Regions from separate parts of the Homo sapiens genome. Here region 1 is linked to region 2. The links come from fine-mapping of genetic effects on plasma protein levels. A gene starts in region 2. The other region holds a variant in brackets. All regions are shown on one strand. Distances are from middle to middle.

Region 1 (10,325 bases), 28 kb before region 2:
CCAGGGGGGCCAGGTGGTCCTCTTCTCCCAGGGTCACCCTAAGTTATTTGAAAATTGCGACACAGTGGTTATACATGTGTCAAAACACAGTACATAAAACCAGTGAGGCATAAGAGAATGGTATTACTGGAAACCCCCACCGAGCTCAGCCATGCATAGACCTGCCACCAAAATCGATGGGTGGCCCGTAATCCAATTAGTTCTACAAAATGAGAGTAATAAAGGCATTCCAGTCTCACCGAGGTAATAAAACAAGTCAGAGAGAAGCTAGGGGAAAAAGCAAAGCCAATTCTTCTCTATCAGACAAACATTTTATCTACTCTGAAAGCAAATTGGAAACACTACTTATTTTTCTGGTTGATTTACAGAGGACCTAGAGCAACCTATACTGCTAGTGCCATTCTGCTAACCAGTGCAAAAGAAGGTTTGCACTCAGTCTGAAACTGTGGAATGGAAGGTTAATCTCTGCAGTGCCTGACTCTTGCAAGTGCTGTTCACCCACAATCTATCACTTGGTCTGTCACTGCACCTCTTGCAATGAGTCAGAAAATCAAAGAAAGCTACATCGAAGTAAACCGTTCAGATGAAAATGGGTTCCAATTACTCTTAACATCCAATGTTTACTCTTGGCACATTTTCCTTCTTGATGTTCTGCCATAAAGAGTCGGAAGCACCTCCCAATTATTTTAACTTTACAATCATTTCATATTCATTCACTTGTTCACTAAATAAATTTGCAAACAGTAAGCACATGTAGAGGAACAAACAAGGTATATGATACATGGCTCCTTCCCACAGTGAGTTTACAATTACGCGCCTTCACATAACATCACTATGTCAACGTTTTTGAAATGTTTACTTAATATCAATATGAAGCATTTTATATGAGACATTTTTTATGAAGCCCAGCTCTTTAATGTTAAAAGTTAAATTTTGTTGGCTGAATTATAATTTAATGATCCTAACATAAATACACATGGTAATAATTTTAGGCTATTCACTTTTATTTCATGCAGGGAGCCTAATACAAAAGCCACTAGACTCCAGTCCTGGCTGAGAGTCTGTAAAATGAGGACGACACTCTCTTACTTGACAATCTGGAAGTTGGGAAGAAAAGTTTAGCTGAAAAATTTAGGAAAAAATTAAAATCACTCTGCAAAAATTATTATTATTCCTGGTTCACATCAATATTATAAACTGGAATGAAATTCATCTGCCATGTTTTGGTTTGCAAGTGGAAATGTACAGTTAGGGTAATTTGCTTTCCCAAATAACATCTTCTATTAAATCAGCAAACGTCTATCAAAGTGCACTGTGGTACTCACAACAGGTCCTACACGGCCAAGCTCTCCAGGGAGTCCTGCTGTCCCAGGAGGACCCTGAAGTCAACAAATCAAAGCAAATGGTCATTTATGAATATTTTTACAATCTATCATACATTATATCAAATATGATAAATATTAGATTTACATTTCTGTATTAGCTTTGGTTTCCAATGACACAATAACTCATTTGACCAAACTTTAATTACTTAAGATACAGCAGAAATTTCCTAAATTAATAAATATTTTGTTTAGCAGAATAAGGGTGTTATCCTTAGTAGCCACCTAAGATCTTGCAGGTAGAACACTGTAAACACCACTGAGTAGACCGTTAGTAGGAGAATAAGGTGGGGATTTGAGAAATAGGACATTTTTATAGACTGCATAAAAATAAATGATGAAGTGATACTTACAGGGGGTCCAGGAATACCACGGCCCTAAAAGAGTACAATAAAAATGGTTATAGCTTGAGGTTTATACTTAGTATAAATATGAATGTAGACATAACTCAGCTAAAATAAACCATAAACTCTATTACTAAAAATGATGCTCATTCTAAAGAAAGCACTGAATAAAGAAAAGCAAACACGGCTCTGCTTCTACAGGAAGCAGAAGCTTATTTCAGCTCCTCTAACATTCCTTTGCTGTCTATGCTAACTGGGATTTTTCCAAACTTTTTTTTTTTAAGGAAATCAAAGTAAAGAAGCCTTCCATGCTTGCCCTCAGGAGAACTTACCATAACTCACAAAGAGGTGCATCACAACTGGAGAGTTTACAGATTTTATTCATTTGTAGCATTTTATAGGAAACCTACATTAAAAGCATTCTAGTTTTACAATCTATAATAAATTATGTTTAGAAGTTCCCCAAACATTCAGCACAGAGAGGCAGGGACAAAAAAGGGTCAGAAACACACCTCCCTTTTGAAAGGTTGGGCTATATTTTCAGACACTGAATCCAGTAGATATTGAAAATAAAATGGTGTCACTCCTGAAGTAACCTACAATGGGACGCTAATTTAATATGTTATATTTGATTTTTAAGATAGTCATTCTATTTTCTTCTTTACATTTATATCTCGTTAGCAACACCAAACTTTACATAATCAAGGATTGAACCACATCTTATTCATCTTCCTAGCCCCAACTCCTAGCACGGGGCCTAGCATATAACAAAACCTAATAATATGCTCGTTGAAATTAAAACTGAATATCAGCTGCCTAGATCTCTATTCTCTCTCTTTAATTTCCAAGTTCAATTTTTTCCCCTTGGGATTTCTCATTATTCTTTTCTCTCCTACATTGGTTAGAATGGTTTTTATTCACAGCTGTCTGTGATATGATATTCATGATAGCTTTTCACTCCAGACTGGCTTTTCTAAAATATGAATATACCAAGCATCCCATGGAATCAATGCACTGATAATGATATTATTATTTCTAATTAGTTGGACAGGAAAAACAAGCAAGAACTTCACATGGACAGTATGTTTTAATAATCAGTGGGATTTTAAAAGGCATTCCTGGAAAAAGGACTCCAGTTTGAACACTTTAATACATAGGTCAATTCAGGAAGTAAGTGTTGTGTTTGAAAACACCAAAGTAATCAATAAGTTCTTTCATTGTCAGAAACCTAGATGTTCAACAAATTTCACTAAACAAAAAGGCATCTCTATAAATTGTTGAGATTAAGAGTTGAGTTGAAAAATATGGGAGAAAGGCCAGCAAGCTGTTCACTTCTGAAAATAGGCTTATAATGGAAAAGTTGACATGCTGAAATATGGCAAAGAAAATAGCACAAATAGGAAAAAAGAAGAAAAAATACAGATTAATGACAAGAGTAAAAGTGGAACAAAGAGCAAAATAGATAGGAAAAGCAGCCTAAGAACCTGGTCCTCATATATACAAATAACACACACCTGCCATATTGTGCAAATGCAGAAAAAGACTAGCCAAGGAATCAGGCAAGTGATAATATCTGATTAGTCGATATTTCATTAGAGATAAAACCAGTTGTGAAGAATGTGGTGTGACACCATGGTCTAAACATTGAATACTTAGATATGCTGTTGTTATGCAAGAAGTGTTTTCTATCATGGCAGGTAAAGAGGGAATTGTCTGCTGGGAAATACCACCTGCAAATAGAATATATATTTTCTACTGTACATTCAAACTTCTCTAAAATTTTTCCACTCATAGTAGAAATGCTTACCATACCAGATGTCATCAACTTATTTCTCATGTATATTATGCAGAAAACTGCACATGTACCCTAAAACTTAAAGTATAATAATAAATAAATAAATAAATAAATAAATAAATAAAAAGATTTCACAATGGCAGAATTTTACCTAAAGATAGGAAATTTTCAATTCTGTAGCTTTACATTTACTTACTGGAAATCCACGCGATCCAGGCACACCAGGTTCTCCCTAAAAATAAAAATAGTTTCATTGTACTGACCTTTCATATCATGAATATGTAAATGTGAAAACTGCATAAATATTGAAAGCATTAAAACACCCCATTATGGTGTTTTTTTTTTTTAAATTTCCAACTTTTATTTTAAGTTCAGGGGTACATGTGCAGGATGTGCAGGTTTGTTACATAGGTAAACATGTTCCATGGTAGTTTGCTGCACAGATCATCCCATCACCCAGCTATTAAGCCTGGCATCCACTAGCTATTCTTCCTGATGCTCTCCCTCCTCCCACCCCCTATTTTCTGACAGGCCCCTGTGTGTGTTGTTCCCCTTCATGTGTCCATGTGTTCTTTTTATTCAGCTCCCACTTATAAGTGAGAACATGCAGTATTTGGTTTTCTGTTCCTGCGTTAGTTTGCTGAAAATAATGGCTTCCAGCTCCATCCACGTCCCTGCAAAGGACATGATCTTGTTCCTTTTTATGGCTGCATAGTATTCCACATCATGGTGTTTTTAAACACAATTTTAGTTGAACGAGTGCATTTTAGATACTTCATAACTTAATGTTAGTTGGCTTGCAAACACTGCAATAAAATTATACTTCAGCATTTTCGTACTAGCAATTAATGCCAGATGGCTAACTTACTTTTTGTCCCTTTGACCCAATGGAGCCAGGGGATCCATCAGGTCCTGTTAATCCCTAATAGAGCAAGACAATGATGTTAGAACTATCATAACATCCTTAGGCAAACCACTAAGTAGAAAACTTTCATTTTATTTATTAATTGTCTACAGGATGGTTACATAAGTATGATGCAAATATTTATAAAGAAATACCTTACTATAGTCTTACTCAAAAGTAAAGATTAACAGAAGATCTGCCTGTTGTGATTATTTCTTCTTGATAAGTTGTATCATACTCCTAACTTCCTGCTAACTGCATTGTTTATCACAGGGTTCAATAATTCAGTGTTTTTTGTCTCTGCTTTGGAAAAAAATGCAACATAGCAATTACAATGTTGTAATAGCTAAGACTGGTGGGTCTTGGTTCTGCCATTTACTCAGGTTTATTTACCTCCTTTACTTCATTTATGAAACAAAAATACTATGTATCTCTCTACAGGACAATAATCTCTTTCTACATGACAACAATGTCTTGGAAGTCAATAAAATATTTCCTCAATAAGAATTAAACACAAACAATCTCATTATTGCCTTATAGCCACTAACAGCCCCCTAGCCATCTTCTAGCAATGACAATTGCTTATCAAAGAATATTAATTCTTAAAGTAGAAACATTTGAAAGCATGCATGTTTCTACATTATTTTTCTTAGTAAAAATAGCTGTGATTAAGTATATATGTTCATGTATGCCACTCGGTATGTAAAATTTAAGCCTATTATTATAAACCACATTTATAATTATCATATTTAATACTAAAGCAGTTATTAAATACATATTCTAAACATTCTCATTTTCCCTACTACTACTTACTTTATCATCATCCTCAATATAAAACACGTATTAAAGAATGATAATATCACATATATACAAGAATTTCCATATTTGGTAAAGATACATTTCTATTTTTAATTTTTTTCTTTGCTCTTTGACACTTTCAGATGCTGTCATTTACAATGTAATCTTGAAAGTATACCTTCCTAAAGATAAATATGATATATATGTGTGTACATATACATACATGCCTATATAAGTATCTTATAAACCCTTTCTATTATCAAGATTTTGAAGAAGACCCAAACAATATTGACAGAGGGATCTCTTGAAAAATATGAAAGCCCTACTTAAAAATGGATCACCAAAATTCATATTTAGTCTGTCATGGTCTGAATAAACATCCATAAAATTCCTTCACATAATTCATATAGAAAACTAGTTCAGTGGCCACCATTTTTACATTTCTCTACCTTAATTAATTTTCCTAACAATGTCACAGAGTGAATCAAATAGAAAAAAATGAGTTGAAATGTTAATTACTGGAAATTTACCAAAGAAGAAAAATATTAAACACACACAAAAGAACTTTTGACAGACTGCCTTTGATTTTCAATAGCCCTAGTCTAATTACAACACCGTAATTTGGGAACAAACCTCAACATGATTAGTTGCTAAGCACCTATGGTAATGAAATGTTTGCTTTGGCATTTCACAAACAAACTATACATCCAGGAGCACTCTCTGGATGCACATATGGCATGTAAATTTTATAAACCTCTGGGCATATTTAACTAACTGATCCTCTAATTCTCACTTAATGCATAAACCCTCCAAGACCAATTCTGTTCAATTTTCATACACACAGTCAACTAACACTCTTCAACCTGTGACTGGAATAACTGACAAGATTGGAGGACAGTAACTATAAAGCAGAACCAAGTAAATAGTTGGATAACCTGGAAGCTGTTTTTCGGTTACTTCATATTAAAAATATCCTCCATAAGACATGCTAAATTATGTCAATCACTGGAAAGTTCTTTGAACTAAGTTGAAAATGGATTCTGGTGTCAGATGTTACAGTAACACCTGTTATGAAATAACTATGCAGAAAACCGTAAGCTCCATGAGGACAAGAGTCATATGTCCATTACAGTCCTAACATGTTGTCCTGGCATCTAACCACTCAAGATGTGATTACTGCCTACAATAAGTTTAAGGAGGCCTTCCAGGTGGCAGGATATTACACTTGTTCCTCCACAACATCTTTATATTCAGCTCAAATCCTGATCCTACTACTTAGCAGCTGTGGAATCATGGGCAAGGTCCCTAACTGCACAGTGTTCTAGACGCTGTTCCTCATTGAGAAAAGGTCCTACAAACAAACAAACCAAATCTAGGTATTAACCACAGCACTGTATTTCTTATCCTCATCACATTTCTTCAATGCCTGAATATTTGCACCTACACTGATCTTTTAGAATAATTTCTTAATAACTCACAATTCTAGTTATAAAGCATCTGCCACAGATAATAGTTGTATACATTCAGAAAATACATAGCACCTAACCTCTGCCTGTAAAAATTATCACAGTTTAGCTATAATTCTTATACTTTATTCTAATTCCTCTTCTGCTTATCTCATATGGGTGTTATAAGAAAGAATAAAATACTGTTTTTAAAGGTCTCTCTGAGCATGTCACAACAAATAGTACATATAAAAATATCTCTATTAATATAATTGCTGAGAACAGCACAGTTGTCCTAAGGTTAGGACCAAGTTCTGTCTTATCTAATTTTACATGTCCATAAGCCAAAAAAAAAAAATCAACTTAACCTGAAAAAAGGGCAGATTTGAGTTGAAATATACAGACCACACACATAATACATACATAATTTTCAAAATCCAGTTTGCAGTAAGACCTCCTAATTCTTATTTCAAAGAAATAAAAGAAGAAAACATTACCAGAGCAGAAAAAAGTGCCTTCATATGAATATTCATACAGACAAACTTCTATACATTATAACATTGAAGCTGACTGTGTTCTGAACTTCATGTTACTGTTTGGCAGAGAAAACCAGTCCTCAATGGAGATTTCCTTCCAGTATTCTGACAGCTCAGCTGGTAGGACTCAAGGCTTACTTCTACAAGCATGACTGCTATGACTCATTTACATTTTCTGCCAAAAATCCATTCAACATAGGATAATGAACACTGAACAGGGTTCCTTTCTGATTCTTTCAACCATCATCCAATTAACCATTTTTTAACATTATCAAAAAATAAGCCTTGTAATGACCCAAAGAGCAGAAGACGAAATGATTCGAGGTTTAAGGTCCTACCAGCACACTCAGGTTCACCTACCAAGAAAGGACTGTTGAAGCTCTCCTACTTACTTAGCTCCCCTATGGCCAAGGACAAACAAACAGCAAATTCTGACCCAGTTACTGCATTTCATTATTCTCAAAGATATCCATTCTCAATTTAGAATAAAAGATTTTTTTAATGTCAAATCAGTCAAAGAGTGGAATAAGAAAACTTTACAGTTCCAGATGCCTCATGTGGCTTAAATTCAAAAGTCAGGGAATATAAAACAAACCAATATTTATAAGTAATTATAAAATATCTATTACAAATGGCTGTTATTATCCATATCATTCTTCTTGATCGGTGACTTAGGTACTAAAAATTCACTATCACTTTTTCTCTCTGTTCTCGCTATTCTCTCTCATCTATTAAGATC[G/A]TCACTTGTATTCGCATGAGGCAGAATTGCCTGGGGAGTCTAAAAATCAAGAAATCTGGACTATTTTGTTATCTTAGCTACTAAATAGCTCTCTGAGGAAACCACTTGTCTTCATAATTATTGTTTCCTTATTTATGGAAAGTAATATTAGACTAATCTACTTTCCAGGTTATTGTTGGTTAAAAGAAATGTTTGTGGCAGTGCTTGAGGAAAAAGTTCTGTGTAAATGCAAATAGTATAGTTGATTTTTCCCCAAGATCTAGAAAATGCCTAAAATACTGGCAGATACAGGGATTTCCTTTTTTCTCCCCTTTCCTCTCTTTCTCTTTTGCTTTCCTCTCCTGTCTCAGCAGACTAAATGTGCTCATCATTTTTTCCTTGAGGTCAAAGTTCAATAATTTAAGGCAGCTTATTCTTTTATGTCTTTTAATATTTGAAATCTGGTTTATGCTGCACTGTGGGTCTGCAAATATAGACAAAGAAAAATTTACTTGAAATTGCTTTCTATGTTGTACTTCTAAAAATTTCAAAGCACTTTCATTTGTTTATCCAAAGTTTCTGTTAGAGTGGGGAAATTACTTTATAAGCAAAACCAAGGATTGTCTTTATGACACCATGGTATAAGGTAAAGAGAAGAATTTGTTGAGTAAGCTACAAAAGCACTATTAAATTGGGGGACAGATAAGTCCAGCTTTCTGTCTGACATTATATTGCAGTTTAATTAATAGCAAGACAAGGATTCAGATGACCCATTTACGCTTCAAATACCAAAATAAATTTTTGAAATACAAAATAAATATTTTATTTACCAAAATAATTTTTTTAATTTAGTCAGAAATTTTCTTTTCATCCAAAACTAAAGGCTGATTGAAATTTCAAAGGAATATAGAAATAAATTCAAGCTACATTAGGCTACCAGTTTGTTCAGTAGCCTTGAATTTGTCAGACTCTTTTTATTATGGTATGACAATTTCGATTAATTATAGATGTTCCAAAGAGTTTGATTGCCAACAAGTTATATTATTTCAGTTCATATTACATTAATACAAACGCTTGTTTGAGATTCAGTTTTTACTATCTAAATATTAGTCCTTAGGTGCCTCCTGTACTGCTAATTTGCATACACAGAAAGTTCAAACTAGGGGCTTTGAAATGTAAACCAAGATCTATTTCCTAAAATACTATGGGTGAAACCCCATCTCTACTAAAAATACAAAACTTAGCAGGGCATGGTGGAGGGCACCTGTAATCCCAGCTACTCGGGAAGCTGGAGGCTGAGGCAGGAGAATCGCTTGAACCCGGGAGGCAGAGGTTGCAGTGAGCCGAGATCGTGCCATTGCACTCCAGCCTGGGCAACAAGAGCGAAACTTCGTCTCAAAAAAAAAAAAAAAAAAAAAACACATACACATACAAAAACGCTAAATAGTATAGACACAGTATAAACAAACACATTCATTATGGGAATCCCGACAAAGAAAGCACACCTTAATAACAGTAAAAATCCAGTTATTTATTTTTCTTTCAAAATGAAGGATATGTCTTAAACTGTAGTCAAAAATTCTTGGAAATCATAATTATAGGTTTTCGAGTGCTTTCTTTCATTTAGAAAAGTCTTTAGTTTTTGGAAAACACATAAAGTGGTAACTTGAAGAGTAACTTGAGTGATGCACCATGGTATGCTAAGAACAGACGCCATTTCTTACTTCACTTCATATTCCAGGGACAAAATCAAGGACTGGTCTGTAGTGGGTCATTATTACATATTGTTAGAATGCATGGAAAGAGGAGAAGCTGAGAATCCTGAAGTCATTTTACTCTGAAGAAGTATTATTTAGTGTTAGGTTTACCATATAAGTCAGCATTTGATGGAGATGTGGGTAAACTGGAGAAAGCCTGCTGGTTCTCAATCTTCATACAGTCCTAGCCAGCTCATTTCTGCCAGTAATGCCAGCCAGAAAAACTCCATGGAAAGACGAAAATCTAGTTTTGAATTTCTAAATTCCCCGCACATCCCCACTCACTTCAAGTGCATCTTTCTTTTTCACATTCCTTGGGATTTAGGAGTGCTCTGGCCCTTTGCCTACCTGCAGGATCTTTTTCTAAATTAATGCAGGGAGTGCCGGTGAAAGAGCAAGGGCGAAGGCTAGCTTCCAGGAGCCTGCCAGTGGGCTCACAGCAGGTAAGCCGAAGCCAGTACAATCTATTGCCATCCGTACCCCCTCTGGCCCCAGTGGGGCTGAGAGTTCACAGCGTGCACTGTGAGGTCACGGTTAGAGACAGGAAGCCAGTACCCGCTGCTGTTTTCTAGGAGGAGGAAATGCCAACGCCTCCTAGAGAGAGGTATCCTCACCTTCACAAGTCCTTTTGCAAAAGCTGCCAGTT
Region 2 (10,456 bases):
AATTGGCAGGACTTGGGAGGCAGATTATAAAGAAAGGATCCTCTAAGGAGAAAAGACTTTCATATACATGCATTTTCTCCTTCTAGTGCTCTTCACCACTAATAATAAACACTTACCCAATACCAGTGTGGACTGGGCTCTTGAAGCACTCTCCAGTTATGAACACCTACTCTACATAGCAACCTCATGACAGAGTTACTATTCCTAATTTTAAACTGAGGGAACTGAAGTAAAGATAGTCTAAGTACTTTCCCAAGAATAAACTTTACTGTTTACTTGGAATTCCACATGTCTGAGTCTCTAACTTTCCTCCTTCTCTTTTTATTCTCCTACTTTCTTTTCCTAATTTCTTCCTCCTTCTTTCCTTATCTTTTAACAAGCCTTGACAGTAAAACAAGATTTTTTAGTCCTTATGGGGGCAGGGAGTCAAGGGTAGCAAATGTGAGACATTAAATATAGCCTGGGTACATTATTTAGTGACAGCTCTAGACAACAACGAAGATGAGCAGGAGGTAAGGAAGCCACGTGGCATCAAATTAATCAATCTCTGAACTTAAGAGTTAATGACAGTACCTCAAACCTTAGAAGAGAAAATCAGGTCAGCACTGAGGACCTCATGTTTTGCTTAATTATTTAAGAAAGAAAAAACTGAATTTTTAAAGCTTATTTAGCAACACGACTGGCACTTCCATACATGAAAAGAAATTATGAGGAAAAAAAAGTGAATTCACTGTTATCATGGTTTTAATCTTTCCAGATGTGAATGGTTTTCCAGAGTCAGTATGGAGTAGTGGTTAGAAGTAAAACCTTTGCAACCATTCTGCCTGGGATTCAGTCCTTCCAGCACATTCCAACCCACTCACCTTATGCAAGTAAATTAAACTTTTGGGGATCCCTGATTTAAGAAAAAAAAGGTTAATAATGACCCTATATCACAGGGTTGTGATGAGAATGAAATTAATGTTAATTAGTAAATTTATAGAAAGAGCTCATATAATGTACTATTGTTGTATTATACAATAATATATAGTAGGTTCAAAATATGAATTTCTAGCTGTAATCTGGTACTATTATATCAGATTCTTCTAATTTGTTCAAAATTTTTATTTTTATATACATTGAGTTTCTATATTATCTTATTGTTCTAATTAATCATTATTTATCTTTATAACTTAATTTCTATTGAAGTCCTAATTGTCTCATTTATCTACTAAAGGAATTTTAATTCTAGTTTTTTTATAGTGTGCTAAAGCATATAATAATTATCATAATCATAAATAAGGTATTTAGGTGATATCAAAACTAAATTGCTGAGATTCATTCATAATGATGACAGGACTCAACACTTACACACTAAAGTACCTCAGTTTTAAATAAAGAGCAAAAGGCTTAGTTCCAGAGAAAGAAATCAGTGAAGTGGAGGATTTGATGTCGTTAGTATTACTATCATTGTTTCTATTATAATTATTTTAGTTTTGCTTTGGTTTGATGTCTGCCAGAAGCCAAGCAGTGGACGTGTGGCTCCATTTCAGCACCAGGACACTTGAACAGCACCATTGTGAGTCTTCTAACCACTCTGTGGCTCCTAGTTAAATTTATGCTTACCCTCTGGCACTTTTCACAGAGGGTCCTTTCAGTCAAAACCAGACAAATTATAGAAAAACAGAAAGCAAGGTAATAAGAACATGTCCTGAATCAATGTATAATAGTCTCAGTGATGCTTTTTCCTGGAATGGAAAGTAAATTACATACTGAAAACATGAAATGCAGTATTAAGGTACTGAAGATAGGCAGGTAAATAAATTTCTTCATCTTTAAATACAATTATAATCCAAGAAACATTGATCATAAGAAAACTCTAACATTGGATAGCTATCCATTTTTAATGCATTTGAGTCAGATAATTAGATTAAAATATTTTTGATAGATTACCTAGTTGGAATCCTGAAGTCTACATTATTTCCCAACTTGTAAGCCACCTGCAATGTAGCTGATCCCACTACTCTCTGGATAGCTCTTCTAGATGCTGCTTTATCTACCTGGAACTGAGAGATCAGATCAAACCCTATAGAATGGGAATACAAAATGAAAAGTCTAAAATGAGATTGGTTTTATTTCTTTCCACAACTTTCCCAAATAAAAAAAAAAATCAGGTTTATAGAAAGCATGCATTTTCAATAGGGTACATTGCTACTCACCTGGTAAGTCATCTTGGCCAATCCTGATCTTTGGACAGAGTTCATTTCCACCATTAGAATTGGAATTGACAGGGAATCCTGCAAAAGAGATAGCATGTCATTCTACTTCATCCACTCTAACTTAAAGTATAATAATAATAAAATAAAATAAAATAATAATAATAATAATAAAATTTAGAACCAGAAAATAGCAATTGACCACAAAAAAAAGATTTCAGGATGTATCAATAATAATAAATATTTAAAATTCAATATTATACCAGCTTGCTTAGAGGTAAAGTGTTTGGCTTTACCTCCATGCCTCTACGATTATAATCTGTCCACCTGCAACTCATCCTGGAAGGGGTGGATGCAAGGCACAAAGTTGCTCTAATAATCTGGCTGGGAAAATGTTCGTTTTGAAGAGGTTAGGCATTTGTTCCTTTTGAAACCAAAGCTGAATGGTGTCCTGAATGGCACAGGGTCAGAAATCTGTTTGGAAAATTCCTGGTGGTTTGGGCTAGAAAATGTTCCTTAAACACCACAAATTTTAGGATTCCAGTGAGATTCCAGAGCCAACCTTGGTCCAGTTCAGTGGGGCTTCTGGAGAGTAGAGTTCTTAGGAATCTTTGTCAGATATAGGGGCCTGGGGAAGTCTTGAGATTCACTAATCCTAAATAAAATATAGAGGATGGATTTGATTTCATAAATTCGTTCTAAGAGATCAAATAAAAGTCCCGACTAGATTAATCCTAACATCTTAGAACTGGGAAGAGTAAAAAGAAGAAGAAAATAATCATGAGAAGGATTAAATCCTCAATTTGATAAGAAATCATAGAATGGAATTGTGTTCTCCTTACACAAATGGAAGGTCAAAGGGAAGAGAGATTTTTCACCACCACAGAAGGCTTCTTGGAAATATCCAACCTCAGTGCCTTGCTAAGATTCATCTGACAACAGAGACTCTCTAGACTTCAAAAAAAGTATTATTCAGTTACAAAGCATAGGCCCGGCGCTGTGGCTCACGCCTGTAATCCCAGCACTTTGGGAGGCTGAGGCAGGTAGATCACCTGAGGTCAGGTGTTCAAGACCAGCCTGACCAACATGGTGAAAGCCCGTCTCTACTAAAAATATAAAAAATTAGCCAGGCATGCTGGCACATGCCTGTAGTCCCAGCTACTTCGGAGGCTGAGGCAGAAGAATCACTTGAACCTGGGAGGCGGAGGTTGCAGTGAGCCGAGATTGTGTCATTGCATTCCAGCCTAGGTGACAGAGTGAGACTTCATCTCAAAAAAATAAAAATATAAATATAAAAAAGCATGGGCCTAACCATAATGGTACATCAAACATGCTCTTTATACTCTCCTCACCCCAAATTGTTGAGGTCCATCCATCCATCAGTCTATTTATTCATTCATCCATGTATTCACCCAACATTTACCAATCACCATCTGTACTAGGCACTGCACTAGGCACTGCAGCTCACAGATTGGCCTTCCTACCAACTGTGATTACTGACAGGACTTACTTTCCATACCCAGCATTGACCATGGAAAACCAGAACCTAATGTATCCCTGTGCCCCAAAGCTGGATTGAAGAGTGAGGGTGTGAAGGACTATGAATGCCTCACTCAGTCTTCAGTCAGCCACAGCCCTGCCTGATCATTTCTGGGAATAAGTGATCTTTGAAAGTCTAGAAACTATGGCCCTTACTGGGGCGACGCTTGACAGCTGCAGATGCCCAGGGTTCCAGGAAACTGCACACAAAGAAGAAAACTGGAATTTTCCTGAAGAAGAGAGAAGAAAAATGACTGAAACAGGAGTCCCCGCAGATGGAAAACACTTCCATATTTTCAAACCTAGTAAACCTAATTAATGTAAGGTGATCAAATCACAGTATAGTTTTTTTTTCATTTCTTTTTTTTTTTTTTTTTTTTTTTGAGACGGAGTCTCGCTCTGTCACCCAGGCTGGAGTGCAATGGCGCGATCTCGGCTCTTTGCAACCTCCACCTCCTGGGTTCAAACGATTCTCCTGCCTCAGCCTCCTGAGTAACTGGGATTACAGGCACGTGCCACCACACCCAGTTACTTTTTCTATTTTTAGTGGAGACAGGGTTTCACCATGGTGGTCAGTCTGGTCTTGAACTCCTGACCTCGTGATTCGCCCGCCTCGGCCTCCCAAAGTGCTGGGATTACAAGCATAAGCCACCGCACCCAGCCTTCATTTTTACTTTGAAACCCTACTGAGAGATGTAAGGAACTCATGTTTCCAGACCCCACTGTCGTTGTTGTTTTATTGATCTCACCTTCTCGGTATCTACCTATCTCACTGTTTTGGTACCTATTTCTTTGTCTCTGGTTTCTTTCACCTTTGATTTCCTTCCTCTCTTTTTCTGTGGCCGTCACTTTCTCTCCCTTCCTCTGTCTGTCTTCGGTTTTTTGTGTCTGTCTTCGGTTTCTCACGCTTGCCCTCTTGTCTTACTCTCTCATCCGTCTCTCTTTCTGTCTCTCACCTTGAGGCTCACCTACTCTCATCTTACCACTGCTGCAAAAATACAGACCCTTGGTTCTGAGGACCCCCAGCTCCATCTCCCCACCACTCTTTCCAGGGTTATTGTCTTACCAGCAGGTCTTCATTTTCCCAGTTGATTTTCTTTGTTTGCCAACAGTCCCTATGAAGAAGGGGTTGGAAGGGAGTCACTGTCCCCTCACGACCCCTTCACTGTTACCCTAGGACTATGTGTTCTGGGCCCAGCCTTGGTCCCTCCTGCCCCCGGTGAGGGCTAAAAGCAAAGGGAGAGAACCAGAGGCATCTCGTGACACTTTAAACTGAAGCAAAGGAAAGGGGTGGGGAGAAGCAGCGCTCTGAGCCCAGGCCTAGGGGTGTGTCCTCAAAGCTAACAAGGTTATACTGAAGGAGGGATTTACAGGGGAAAGTTTGCTGAAAAGAAAAAAATAAAATCAGGATGTGGGGAAATTCACCAGAAAGATCCAGGCAAGGTGCTATAGGAACACAGTAGATGCTTTTAGATCTGCTATAGGAGTACAATGGCAGCTTTCAGAACTGCTATAGGAATACAGTGGAAGCTTTCAGAGGGCTGAGGTTCCAGTAAAAATGTGCCCACTGGGAGGCAGAGGTGTGGAAACTCGTGGGAGCCTTGGTGCCCGATCAACCTAAGTTTCAATCCCTGTTTATTCTGAAGCTTACTAGCTGTGTGTCCTTGAGAGAGTTACTTCACCTTTCTGTAACTAGATGCCCTAACTGTAAAACAGATTGAAAATGCTTACATTAAAACAATGGTTTTGAGAATTAAATGAGGTATCAAAGGCAGAGGGTCTAACACCCAACAATCATTATTTGTCATCGTCTTCATAGCTAACGCTTCATTATGCACCTCCGTCTGTTGAAAATGCTCAAAGCTTAATGCCATTTAATTCTCACAACAACATTATAAGGTAAGACTGAAGTTACCCTTATTCTCCAAATAAGAAAGTTGAGGAAGCAGAAAATGAAGTAACTTTTTCAAAGTGCCATGCCTATTACTAAATACACATTCCCTCTCTCTACCTCATGGATAGAAATCCTGATAAAATGTAACATCAAGCCCCCTACTTGTTGTTTATTCTTAAACTCTGAGACTACCAGAGTTGAGCAGAGGACACTGTATCTGGAAAGAAGCAACATATTATCCTCCGTTAACAAGGTGAGAGCAAATTACAAGGAGCACAAACCTAGAGAGAGGCATGTTATCAGCATCGCTACCACACATGCCATGCCGTCTCTCCAGAACCTGAGCACCTAAAGAGAATTCCCTATAGCCCCCACATCACCCCCGTTACCACCCACTCAGCATGGCCAACCTCTGGCCTTGTCTTGAGGGACACGGGTGGTTACTCCAAAAACCAAGACTCTAAAGGTCAGAAGATCCAATGATCTCAAAAATCACAGTACAAGCAAAGTAATTTTTAGGTGAACTTTTTTTTTTTAAGAGACAGGGTCTCAGGTCTCGCTCTGTCCCCCAAGCTGGAGTACAGTGGCATAATCATAGCTCACTACAGCCTTGAACTTCTGGGCTCAGGGGATTCTCCCACCTCAGCCTCCTGAGTAACTGGGATGATAGTCATGCACCACTGCACCTGGCTTCTTGAAATTTTTAAATTTCGTTTTCTAATTGATTTAATTTTTATTTAATTACAAAACAATAGCGTTGCTTCTTATTTTTCATTTGTTTATTTCTTTTCCAAAAAAGTCCTTTCAGTTTCTGCCTCCCCCAGCTCACTGATGAAATGTAAATCAGGCAAACTTAATATCCATGCTTTTGCCCTTTTATTTTCTACTCATAGCCCACCTGTTGGAGTCCTGTCTCTCTTTCCCAGAGGGACACCCATTTCCTCATGCTGTTTGGGGCTTTCTACAAGTCCCTGTCATTTGCCTTCTGTCTATCAAAATTCCCATTCCCTAGTGCAGCCATCCTGGCTCTGTGACAGAACTACAAATGACCAGATCTTAGCTTATTTGTTTAAGTCAGTCAGGGCTCATGAGAAAGAAGCGGTCTATTAACCTCAGAGGAGAAACTGCAGCTGGGGACCTTCCTGACATCCTGAAGTCACAGGAGGTAAGCCAGCCAGAGATTCACAGGGGAAAAGGCATTTTCCAAAGGGACTGTCCATTGAAGCTATTTATTTGCATGATTGATCCTCTCATATTACTTACTCTGGTAAGAAAGGAGAGAGGGATTTTTCATTATAATGAAGTGTTTGGGAAATCCTTTCATTGCTTTAGAGATCTCAATTCCGCATTTGCCCCTCTCCTTCCCACTGTAATGAATCCTCTTCAAGTAGAATTTGAAATCAAGTGAGGGTGCCTTTTAATTAAAAATGAAAGGATAGAGAGAAAAATAGGTTTGCTTATAGGTGGTGTGGCTTTTTTCTAGCTTGGCAGTTTTATTTAAGATGGTAGGAGCAAGCAAGAGCTATTTTAAGAAAGAAAGTAGGCTGGGCACAGTGGCTCACGCCTGTAATCCCAGCACTTTGGGAGGCCAAGGTGGGTAGATCACCTGAGGTCAGGAGTTCGAGACCAGCCTGGCCAACATGGTGAAACCCCATCTCTACTAAAATACAAAAATTAGCCAGGCCTGGTGGCACGCGCCTGTAGTCCCAGCTACTCGGGAGGCTGAGGCAGGAGAATCGTTTGAACCCAGGAGGCGGAAGTTGCAGTGAGCCGAGATCACACCACCGCACTCCAGCCTGGGTGACAGAGTGAGACTCCATCTCAAAAATAATAATACTAATAAAAAGAAAGAAAGTAAATCCAGGCCAGGCAGGGTGGCTCATGCCTGTAGTCCCAGCACTTTGGGAGGACAAAGGCAGGCGGATGACTTGCACTCAGGAATTGGAGACAAGCCTGGGCATCATGGTGAAACCCCATCTCTACAAAAAATACAAAAATTAGCCGGGCACAGTGATGCACACCTCCAGTCCCAGCTACTCAGGAGGCTGAGGCAGGAGGATCTCTTGGGCCTAAGGAGCTTGAGGCTGTAGTGAGCAGTGATTGCACTACTGCACTCCAGCCTAGGCAAGACAGTGAGGCCCTATGTCAAAAAAAAAAGAAAAGAAAAAACAAAAAACAAAAAAGAAAGTCGATCCAGAGAGAACAAAGATATATACAATATTATTTAAGGAAATTTTTTTTCCTCCCTCCACTCCCATTTTCTATTAATCTTGTTTCCTAACGCGACATTAGAATCTCACAGACAGCAGTGCAAATGCCACACTATTCTGGTCTGGGTCAGTTGCACCCTAAGGTCATAGACGCATAAGCTTTTTCACCCTTAGCATTATTTCCTCACCTTACCTAACAGTTTGGTTCTGAAAAACCATGTAGAAATGAAATGTGGTCAATCATATCAGATTATAAATGAACTAAGACAGCTTAATATTTAAAATGATCCATTTTATAAATAGAAGTGTTTTGTATAGAACAGTTATACTTTTCTTTGTACCTCCTCTCATCCCTCCCCCACATACTTTTTCACAGAATGCACACACACTAATCTCCTTCTTCTTATAAATCAAGAATATTATTTACTTAAAGCTTAAATCGGGGAACATCATCACAAATAATCATCTTTCTTGATCATCTGCTTTCTTCCCTTTGTTTATTCAATCATGTATTGAGTAACTATATACAGTAGTATATGTATCAAGTATGTGCTGGGAGGTGAGGAAGCAAAAAGTGTGAATAAACACAGCCTTGCCCTGAGGAAGCTGACAATCCAGCATGGAGGACCAATATGAAAGCGACCACAATTCAGAGAATAAGAAGGCTGTAGTGTCACTGAGAACAAGTATTAGCATAATCCAAGGGCATCGGGAAATTTTTAATACAAGAGATGAAATCGTGAAGGATACTAAGGCTACTAAGAGAATAAGTGGGTGCAGTATGTTTTAGACAGAGAAAACAGAAGATACTATAACAAAAAGGTAAAAGAGGACATTTGGGAAGCAAAGAATCCTTTCATTTGGTAAATATCTATTGATGCCTCTTCTACCATGCTCCCTGAGTGACCTTAACACCAGAGAGACAACCAGAGAAAGATCAGGTCCCTGCCCCTATGCAGCTTACACACTGGTGGGAAGAGAGGTACTAAACACATTTACAAGAATAGACAAAATAATTTCAGGTGGAAACATTATGAAAAATATAAAAGAAGACAATGTGTCATAGAGTCTGTAGAAGGTTTAGAAGCTGGTCTAGGTTGAGGGGTTAGGGAAGGCTGCTTTGAAGTCGTTAATTTTGACTCAGACCAGATGAGAATAAAGAGATAAGATTGGTGGGTAGATTGGAAAAGGGGTGGGGGACAGGAAAACTACCTGGTTTTGAGCTTGAGCAACTGAGTAGATGGTGATGTCACTTTCTGAAATCACAAGTAGGAGGACCACGGGGGAGGAGTTGGGTAAAGGATCTTGAATGACATCAAAAGAAAGCATAGACATTATTCTGGCTGTTATAGGAACTGAGAGAAGAGTTTGAGGCCAATAATGACTTTTTTGGATGTGTCTTTAGAAAGACAGTTCTGGTGTTGCTTGGAGGATGGATTGAATGGGCTTTATTACTACGTATACAGATACACAACCAGAACAAAAGTTTCAGAAAGCAATAGTTACTCATATAAATGTATTAAATTACTTTATAATCAGTGAAAGGTCAGTAAAATGTAGAATTATAAGTGCCTAGTGACTTAATAGGAGGAAATATGGAAGGTTAAGGAAGGAAGTAGGAACCTGGAATAAGAAAGCTAAGTTTCATTTATAGCTCCGATGAGTGACTTTCTTTGTTTTCACCATTGGGAATCTTAAATGAGGAAAGTGTCGTATCCCTTCCAGTTATCTTTATGTTAATAAACTAAGTGAAGATTGGACAGAACTAACAAAGGAATTAGTCTCCAATGGTGGACTTCCAGAGTTTTGAGATTAAACTTTGAGAGGTGAGAAGCCTTCCTGATGCCCCTGTAATCTTAAATTGGCAGGTGTCTCTAAGTGAGGCCATCCCTCTTTGCCTGCCTATCATTTTAATCTTTATACTGTAACTGGTTCCTTTCAACTCTGGCCTTTTATTGTAGCACTTTTATCAAGTCTGCAGCTTCCCAGCTACTTGGGAGGCTGAGGTGGGAAGAACACTTGAACCTAGGAGTTCAAGACCACTCTGGGCAACATAGTGAGTCCCTGTTTTTAGAAAAATAAATAACCTTTAGCTTTTTGCTATAGAAAATATCCAAATAGAGTCTGGACAATGCTGGATGTAAAGAAAACTGTGAAGCTACCTCTAAGCATATTGTTTGTAAATACTGTGTACCATTTAGAGGATAACATGGGGGATTCACATGAAGTTATGTGAAAATATTTTATAAGGAATAATACCTAAGTGCCTCTCTTACAGTTCTCCAGTAGAATGTATTTTCAATTTTTGCCACAAGGGGGAGAAGTTATTTTTATAGTAATATGTACATTTTTTTATTTTAAAAATAGAATTCACACAACTTTACAGCATCTATGAACATTTTGCTATCCTAATTATGTGTGTGTGTGCATGTGTGTAAACAAGATTCTGAAAGTCTTGCATGAGAAAAATTTCAAAGGAAATTAATAACAAAACCAAAACAGTTTTGAAGAATGTGCACAGTGGACACAGGAATTGAACAAAGTTTACCATGATTAAAATTATGTTTTCTTAGTTAAAAAATAAATAAATAAATGTAATATATTCTATTTTCTGTTTT

Direction of the effects. Positions count from the first base shown, and alleles are read on the strand shown. Strength reflects both the effect of a copy and how common the allele is.
In carriers of allele G in region 1, the plasma level of the protein whose gene starts at base 4,974 in region 2 tends to be higher than with A alone (weak association).

What was found. A credible set is the group of variants that fine-mapping cannot tell apart. PIP is the chance, under the fine-mapping model, that this variant and not a neighbour inherited with it causes the effect. The UK Biobank Pharma Proteomics Project read protein levels with antibody pairs (Olink). The fine-mapping took linkage between variants from a reference panel, not from the people measured, so its PIPs are less certain.
Region 1: its variant is the best candidate, but not a certain one, in a credible set for the plasma level of the COL9A1 protein (UK Biobank, PIP 0.79).

What each region holds. Positions count from the first base shown.
Region 1 is chr6:70,270,330-70,280,654 of GRCh38, forward strand. COL9A1 (collagen type IX alpha 1 chain) reads right to left here. Exons shown (of 38, transcript NM_001851.6): 11 at 4,390-4,443; 12 at 3,718-3,753; 13 at 1,736-1,759; 14 at 1,326-1,379; 15 at 1-38. Among named protein-coding and RNA genes, the nearest start is that of COL9A1, 28 kb to the right of the region's middle. RefSeq lists an enhancer at 1-104. The variant G/A (reference allele first, on the strand shown) is at 7,944.
Region 2 is chr6:70,298,111-70,308,566 of GRCh38, forward strand. COL9A1 (collagen type IX alpha 1 chain) reads right to left here and starts at 4,974. Exons shown (of 38, transcript NM_001851.6): 1 at 4,801-4,974; 2 at 3,891-3,964; 3 at 2,199-2,276; 4 at 1,933-2,065. The coding sequence starts at 4,814.